2 linked regions of the Homo sapiens genome follow. The protein of the gene in region 2 interacts with the protein of the main gene of each other region in a pairwise test. Each region holds a gene or a part of one and is shown on either strand. Other genes may lie near its edges. The genes, in order: RILPL1 and PIP4P1.

Region 1 (3,810 bases), on a different chromosome or scaffold from region 2:
TGCAGTGGTGCGATCTCGGCTCACTGCAAGCTTCGCCTCCTGGGTTCACGCCATTCTCCTGCCTCAGCCTCCCGAGTAGCTGGGACTACAGGTGTCCACCACCATGCCTGGATAATTTTTTGTATTTTTAGTAGAGATGGGGTTTCACCATGTTAGCCAGGATGGGTTCAATCTCCTGACCTTGTGATCCGCCTGCCTTGGCCTCCCAAAGTGCTGGGATTACAGGCGTGAGCCACCGCACCTGGCCCCAGTTTTTTTTTTTTTTTTTTTTTGAGACAGAGTCTCGCTCCGTTGCCCAGGCTGGAGTGCAGTGGTGCGATCTCAGCTAACGGCAACCTCCGCCTCCTGGGTTCAAGCAATTCTTCTGCCTCAGCCTCCCGAGTAGCTGGGACTACAGGCGCACACCACCATGCCTGGCTAATTTTTTGTATTTTAGTAGAGACGGGGTTTCGCCACGTTAGCCAGGCTGGTCTTGAACTCCTGAGCTCAGGAAATCGGCCTGCCTTGGCCTCCCAACTCTTAAACCATTTTAACTTAGGCTTATGTCATTTTTAGCCAAAAGCAGCCCTTAACCACTCCTTTTTTTTTCTTTTTTCTTTTTTTGAGACAGAGTCTCACCCCTGTCGCCCAGGCTGGAGTGCAGTGGCGTGATCTCAGTTCACCACAACCTCCACGTCCCGGGTTCAAGCAATTCTCCTGTCCCAGCCCCCCAAAGTAATTGGGACTACAGGTGTGCACCACCACGCCCAGCTAATTTTTGTATTTTTAGTAGAGATGGGGCTTCACCATATTGGCCAGGCTGGTCTCGAACTCCTGACCTCAAGTGATCTGCCTGCCTCGGTCTCCCAAAGTGCTGGGATTACAGGTGTGAGCCACCATGCCTGGCAACTACTCCCTTTTAAGACTTCTCTCCCTGACCTTCCTCATTTGTATCCCAGATGCCTGTCCTGTCCTACAGCAAACCTGGAAGTAACTACCAAATTCACAGGATACCTAATGACTACTGGGACTTGAACCCACCTGACTGTGAGCTTGTCTGTCCTACCTCCCCTACCTGTAACTCAGGTTACTAGTGCAGCGTCTGCAAACTTTCAACAGCTCATAAACATCTGCTGGGAGAAAACACAAGCCTGAGTGTGTCCCTAAAGTTCACTATACTTTTCTGAAACAGCATCTCCATTGTCCACATTTCTATCTGTCAAAGTCTCAGCATTGTTAACACTGACGCCCGGCTTCAGGAACAGCTCTTCCCTGAAACCCCACCTCCCCACCTCTGCCAGGATGAACGATCTCACCCTCTGTGTTCCTGGCACAGTCTGGGGGCACATTTAAGGAACAGACACCGCTAGTGCCCACTTTGTAGCCCTGGGCCTACCTGGATGTTAGCTGCAGCTGTGATGGACAGCTCTGGCCACGCGGACAGTAACATGCACAGTGTTGTGCGACCATCACCGCTCTCTAATTCCGGATCATTTCCATCGTCCCCAAAGGGAACTCCATGCCCATCGGCAGTCACTCCCCATTCCTCCCTCCCCCAGCCCCATTCGGACACCAGTCTACTTTCTGGCTCTATGGATTTGCCTGTTCTGGGACATTTCGTGCAAATGGAGTCACACACTGGCCTTTTGGGCCTGGCTTCTTTCACTCCGCGTGATGTTTTTGCAGCTCATCCGTGCTGCCGCGTGGCCAGGGCTGCATTCCTCTTTAGAGCTGAATCATATCCCCCTGTATGGAGAGACCACTGTTCACCCATTCATCTGCTGATGGACATGTGGGTTGTTTCCACCTTTTGGCGACTGTGAATAGTGCTGCTATAGGGTCTCACTCTGTTGCCCAGGCTGGAGAGCAATGGCTCAATCATGGCTCACTGCATCCTCAAACTCCTGGGCTCAAGTGATCCTCCTGCCTCATCTTCCCAAGTAACTGGGACTACAGGCATATGCCACCATACCTAAGATTTTCTTTTTTTGTTTTTTGAGATGGGGTCTGACTCACTCTGTTGCCCAGGCTGGAGTGCGGTGGTGCAATCTCAGCTCACTGCAACCTCTGCCTCCGAGGTTCAAGCAATTCTCCTGCCTCAGCCTCCCAAGTAGCTGGGATAACAGATGCCCACCACCACACCCAGCTAATTTTGTATTTTTTTTTAGTAGAGACGGGGTTTTACCATGTTGGCCAGGCTGATCCTGAACTCCTGACCTCAAGTCATCTGCCCACCTCAGCCTCCCAAAGTGCTGGGATTACAGGTGTGAGCCACCATACCCAGCCCAAAAGCAAGTTTTTAATTTTTAAAGAATTTTTTGTAGAGATAGGACCTCGCTATGTTGCCCAGGCCAGTCTTGAGCTCCTGGCCTCAAGTGATCTTCTTGATCCCCTTGCCTCAGCCTCTCAAAGGGCTGGGATTACAAGTGCAGGTGACCACACCTGGCCTTCATGTAAAAGTTTGAACACCTGCTCTCAATTCTTTTGGATATGTGCCTAGGAGTGGAATTGCTGGGTCATATGGTACTGTGTGATTAATGATTAAGGTCTGGACTAACTAATGTCTGCCTCCCATACTAAACTGTAAGCTCCATGTGGACAGGGATCATGTCTGTATTTTGCTCGCTATTTTATCCTCTGGGCCGGCTACACAGTCAACAATCATTGGTATGAATGAATAAATAAATGGCAGGTGCCTAATAACCATCACTGAGATGGGAGAATGCTGGGAGTCTGGGGTTCCAACCCCTCAGCTGTGTGTCCTCAGGCCAGTAGCTTGTTCTCTCTGAGCCTCTCGTTTTTTCTCTCTCTCTCTCTCTCTTTTTTTTTTAGACAGGTCTGGCTCTGTTACCCAGGCTGCAGCGCAGTTGTGCAATCATGGCTCATTGCAGCCTTGAACTCCTGGGCTCAAGTGATCCTCCTGCCTAAGCCTCCCAGGCAGGCAGCTGGTACTACAGGTGTGCACCACCACGCGTGGCTAATTAAAAAAAATGTTTGTAGAGAATTGGGGTCTTGCTATGTTGCCCAGGTTGGCCATTTTCTGAAGTATAATGGGGAAAACAAGGCAACCCTGCCTGCCTTAAGCCAACCCCCAGACTGACCCTCTGCTACCACCTCTGCACCCAGCTTCCTGCTCACCTCAGGCTCCTCCTCCCCATTCTGGCTGTGCTCCCCCTGCAGCCTCTCTCGCAACTTCCCCAGCTCTGCTCGCAGGCTGCCCATCTCCTGCTCCTTGGTCTGCAGGTCTGCCTCCAGCTCCACCTTCTGTTCGATCAGGGCTTTCCCCTGGGCCTCCACCACCGTGACCCGGTGCCGAAGGTCATGGTTGATCTTCATCAGCCGTGTCTGCTGCTGCTGTAACTGTAGAAAAAGGGAGACCATTGTGCGGGGCTGCCACCTGCGGTAGCTCAGGTTGTACACTGCACAACGGCAAACCATCCATAGGTGTGCCATTTACATTGCAGACATCTTTGTTTGAAAGTTGTTCGTATTCTTATAGCTGATGATGCTAGAGATGGGCAATTTGTGTATTTTCTATGATAATTTTATGGCAGATGGAAGGGTGTCTTGCTAGAATTAATACATTATGAAAATTTCCCAACAAATGGAAGTAACATGCCTTCAGAAAGGGGCATTTTTTTCTGATTTACACAGAGACACTGTATGGGTTCCTGGAGCACGCTGGACCCTGCTAAGTCTGCTCACAGAGAGGCATGAAGTGGTGGGGCTGGAGGAGGCCTTGGGGTCAGAGCAAAGTCTGCCCAGGCCTCGGGACCTTCCCAGGAGGCGGGAGGAGCCTGCTCACCGGGCAGTGCCACGTTTCCTCCTGCT
Region 2 (4,259 bases):
CCACCAGGGAGGGGCCAGGCACAGTCTGTGGGTCATCAGGCTCAGGAGAAGTTCTGGACAGGGTGGCTGACCTTCATACAGGCCCAATAAAGAGCCCGGCCCAAACACAGCACAGCCAACAGGATGACAAATGCCCAGGCTGCATAGATGCCTCCATATCGCCGTGCATGCTTCCATGTGCCAAACTGATGAAGATAAGGAGGGAGAAGAAAAGAAAGATGGGGTTAATGTTGGTCTCCACTACCTCCTATTAGTTCTAAGAACAGTAATAACTCACGCTTCAGTCCTTGTTCCTTATCCACATGTAGCCACCCTCAGGGACCTTCTTAAAGGCAGAGCTGATCAGCTTCCTTCCCTTAGGCGTAACATACTCATCCCATCCCACACTGTATCTCAGTTTTTCTTAATATCTGACAACTGAGCCAGGTTTGAAAAATAGCAACTCTTAAATTAAGAATTTCACTGTCCTATCCTCATCCTACAGAGAAAGGAAGGCTGTTTTTCACTCTTGTAGTAGTAATAAAGTCTGTTTGATCAGCCACTTTGCACTTTAGCTCATCCATATCTTAAAACAAAACAAACTAGTCCCCCAAGTTTCTTCCACTTTTTTTTAGGGTAGCAGTTTCCCAAATCTTAGCCTATGGAGATGAGGCTGCAGAATGAAAGAGGTTGGGGCAAGGGTACTCACGGCAAGGCCAGTGGCAGTGACTGCCAAAAGCAAGCCAAGCAAGAAGCAGCAGATACATCTCTTACGTGGGTATCTGCGCCCAATAGATGACCTGTGGGGAGGCAAATAGAAATGGATGCTTTCTATGGCCTTGTAGTTTTTACTCCATACATCAATTACCAGCTCAATCCCTAATCACTTACACTTTCCTGCAGTGAGGACAACGTGCCAAAGTGCGGTCTGTGAACTCTGTCCACTATGGAGAAAGAAAACAAAAATAATAGCACAAGCAGGGTCTCCCTCAATGAGAACCTTGGGGTGGGGATGCAGAACATGTTCCCATAGGACAGACCTTTCAGGGGTCATTACCATTACTCTAAGAAATATACTCGAAATGACTCTTAGTCTCCTTTCCCCTCCCCTTCCCAATACCCCTTCCTCACCAGAAAAGTATTCTTGCAATGTCCACAGATAACCCTGACACCCATGGGTTGGGGTTCTGGACTCAGAGGTCCGGGATGCACAGGCCCCAGGTTGATGATTCTTTTGCTATACAAAAGAAAAAGACTTGTATTTTCAAACTTGTGTTTGAAAAATTTTTAATCCTAAAAATCTTCACAGTCCCTGTTCCACATCCCCCACTCCCTGTCTATTAAGTCACTCGACTTCTCTGTACTTAAGATACTCTGTCCCCCAACTGTATACCCTCAAGAATCCTTGAGAAAGAAAGAGCACTGTTTAAACTTCAGGTCCCCAATTCCCCTCCGACCTCAGGATAACACACCCAGTCCCCAAGGCTCTCTATTCTCCGAAACGACATCATTTCATCTCAATATTTTTATTGAGAAACGAGAAAGACAGCTATAACATTCCTGAGGCACATGCTTCAAAGCCTTTTCTCCTAAATAAACACTAGGCTCTCTCACCTTTACATTCTCTGTATACGCTCATCCTTTTTTGACTTTCCAGTTCCCCACTTAGGCCCTTCCCCACCTTATGCCTCTTACCAGTAGGGCCGAGGGCATGCAATCCGTTGGGATGTCACTTTGCAGATAAGGAGACAGTTACAGGGGCATCGAACATATTTTTTCCCTGGGGGTGCATTCTTGATTGGCTAGAGAATAATAGGGTCATCAGCAAGCAAACCTCTAATCCCAATCCCCTCCACTTCCCTCCAAAAACACTTTATGAGATCAGAAAAATAAGGTGCTAACCAGGAAGGAGAAATAAAAGAAAGACTATATCATGAGATTTGCAAATAGGAACTAGGCTAGGTGTAAAAGTGAGAGAAAGTGAACATTAGCTTTGGTGAGTGGCTTCTGGGGAAATGGCTGTGTGAGACACCTGGAACTGAAACCTGGGTATCATCAAAAGCACTTGGCTAATAGCCGGAAGGTCAGGGTCTAGAACCAAGACATCAGAAAGAGGATCCAGGAAACAGGGCCCATTTCATAGATATGTGTAACTCACGGTGGCTTCATTGCAGACACCACATTTGACTACATGCTGATGCATCTTGCCTTCCACGTTGATGAGAGATTGGCAGACTCGGCAGGTGATCATAGGGGCACTCCCACTGTCCGGGCTAGTTAAGGGTGAATAGGGGGGTGGGTCCTCCCCAGGCAACACGGCTGGATGCCCCTCGGGAAACGGGGGAAATGCTGGAGAGGAAGCAAATAGAAGGGCTGGGATCACTTACACCCCCACTGATGCTCCACGGTGGTAGGGAAGTCCTTCTGATCTTCAACCCTCTGACCAAGCTCGGAGGGCTTCTCATAATTGGCACTTCTATCAGGTTGCTCAGAACCCCCTTCCGTCCCTAGGCTGTGGTCGCGATTACGGAGGGAAGGAAGCCTCGCCCAGTCACAGGTGCAGCAGTCCCGCACCTGGCGACTGGGACCCGCCTCCGCCCTCGGTCCCGCCCCCTCCCCGGCTTTCAGAGTACCCCGGGGAGCACCTCGGACCCGCCCCGGCTTACCCTGGGGCGGGGCATGTTTACCGGCTCCGTACGGTGGTGCGGAGGGGGTCAGGCCTCCCCCGGGCCCAGCCCCACTCCCGCCGGGCCCCACTAAACCGTTGCCGCCCGCGCCACCGTCGATGGGCTCAGACAGCAGCGGGGAACGCTCTCCATCTGCCGCCATGGCCGCCACCGCCGCCTCCCGCTCAGGTCGGCGATCCGGCTCCCTTCGCCTCTGCCGTCGCCGCAGCCACCGCCACCGCCGCCACCGCCACCGCCGCTACCGGGTCCCCAGGGCGCCTGCGCGCCGCGCGCCCAGCTCACTCCGCAACCAGTGGCCTGCCCCGCCCCGTTCCGTCTAGCAGCACGTGATAGGCTATCCCCGCCCGGGTCATGCTATTATTCGCGTAGATAAACCAATTCCTGGTCCTGTGAAGGCAGCTCTCCTTTTCCATTGGGGAGCGACGCACAAACGTCAACTGTCACATGACCTGCCAGATGCTGCTGGGCTTGCAAAACCTGCACGTGACTAGAGGTTCTGCAAGCTATTGGGAGCGACGCCCATCGCGCTACCTCCAGACCAGGAGGTAGGGCTAGGCTGCGTCTGCTCAACTGGTCACGTGTTTCTGGAAGCTGCACGGTCCCTGTTGCTCTGCTCCTCATTGGTTCAAAGACACCACTAAAACACTTTTCTCCGGCTTTGCGTTGTAGCTGGTTTCCTATTGGCTGGTGACTTTACTTCTTTCGTCCTGTGATCCTAGCGGCGCAACTGCATTGGCCCGAACTTAGCGCCAGAACATGGGGGGCGTGGCTTATGCATTTTAAAGGAGGCTGGGCGGGTGCAATAAAGGAGTGCGGAAGCTTGGGATCTTCTGAGCGGGGAGAAAATGGACGGTGGGGAACAGTAGACAAAGTTAGCTGTTCTACTCAAAGAAGTACCTTTAAAAAGTCAGAGTAATGAGGTACCAGAAGGAAATGGATTAAAAAGTTAAGATTATCACTCCAGCCTTTGTCGCTAGAGTCACTTTCAGGACAGGACACAAGACTGGGTTTTCCTGGAAGCTGTCCTTACAGAGCCCCGTCTTTCCCCATTGCTGATCAAATTGTTAAATTATCTTTTCATTAGTGTCTCCACTACTAGAAGATTTCATCGTTTTACTAAAAAAAAAAAAAAAAAAATTCAATAGAGATGGGGTCTTGCCTATGCTGGACTCAAACTCCTGAGTTTGATCTCCTGCCTAAGCCTTCCCAGTAGCTGGGACTACAGGGACAAGCCACCGTGCCTTTACTCAGTTTTATGACCACCAACCTTTAACATACGCACAAGTTTGTAGATTGGATTAATCAAATACAAGGTTATTTTCGTCACCTTATTTGACAGATGGGACAGTCTTTAGGCCTGTCTCAACTTTGCTTCCAGCAAAGGGGCAGTGCCTCCTCCCCTACCTGAAGTCTCGTGTGGTCTTTATGGGCGCCTGAACCACACCTGGATTTTTTCCCAAGTCATAGCCCAAACTGGGACTGCTTTAAATATGGGAAGCAACAAGGAATTGATAAAAACAATAAACCCCGAGGAGGTCCATTATCAGTTTGGCTAGCAGACTCTCCACTAAGAAAGGAAGTGCATCAAAGAAA

What was found.
Region 1: the proteins of PIP4P1 (region 2) and RILPL1 interact in binary tests that used the Homo sapiens proteins (3 or more experiments, as listed by UniProt).

The regions. Positions count from the first base shown.
Region 1 is NC_000012.12:123,495,427-123,499,236, forward strand, and holds part of RILPL1 (RILP-like protein 1), read right to left. Parts: intron 3,340-3,810; coding exon 3,118-3,339; intron 1-3,117. UniProt on the Homo sapiens protein: Plays a role in the regulation of cell shape and polarity. Plays a role in cellular protein transport, including protein transport away from primary cilia.
Region 2 is NC_000014.9:20,458,518-20,462,776, forward strand, and holds the start of PIP4P1 (type 1 phosphatidylinositol 4,5-bisphosphate 4-phosphatase), read right to left. Parts: upstream 2,918-4,259; 5' UTR 2,809-2,917; coding exon 2,667-2,808; coding exon of another isoform or gene 2,646-2,666; intron 2,329-2,645; coding exon 2,138-2,328; intron 1,782-2,137; coding exon 1,675-1,781; intron 1,217-1,674; coding exon 1,111-1,216; intron 924-1,110; coding exon 871-923; intron 780-870; coding exon 689-779; intron 186-688; coding exon 42-185; 3' UTR 1-41. UniProt on the Homo sapiens protein: Catalyzes the hydrolysis of phosphatidylinositol-4,5-bisphosphate (PtdIns-4,5-P2) to phosphatidylinositol-4-phosphate (PtdIns-4-P).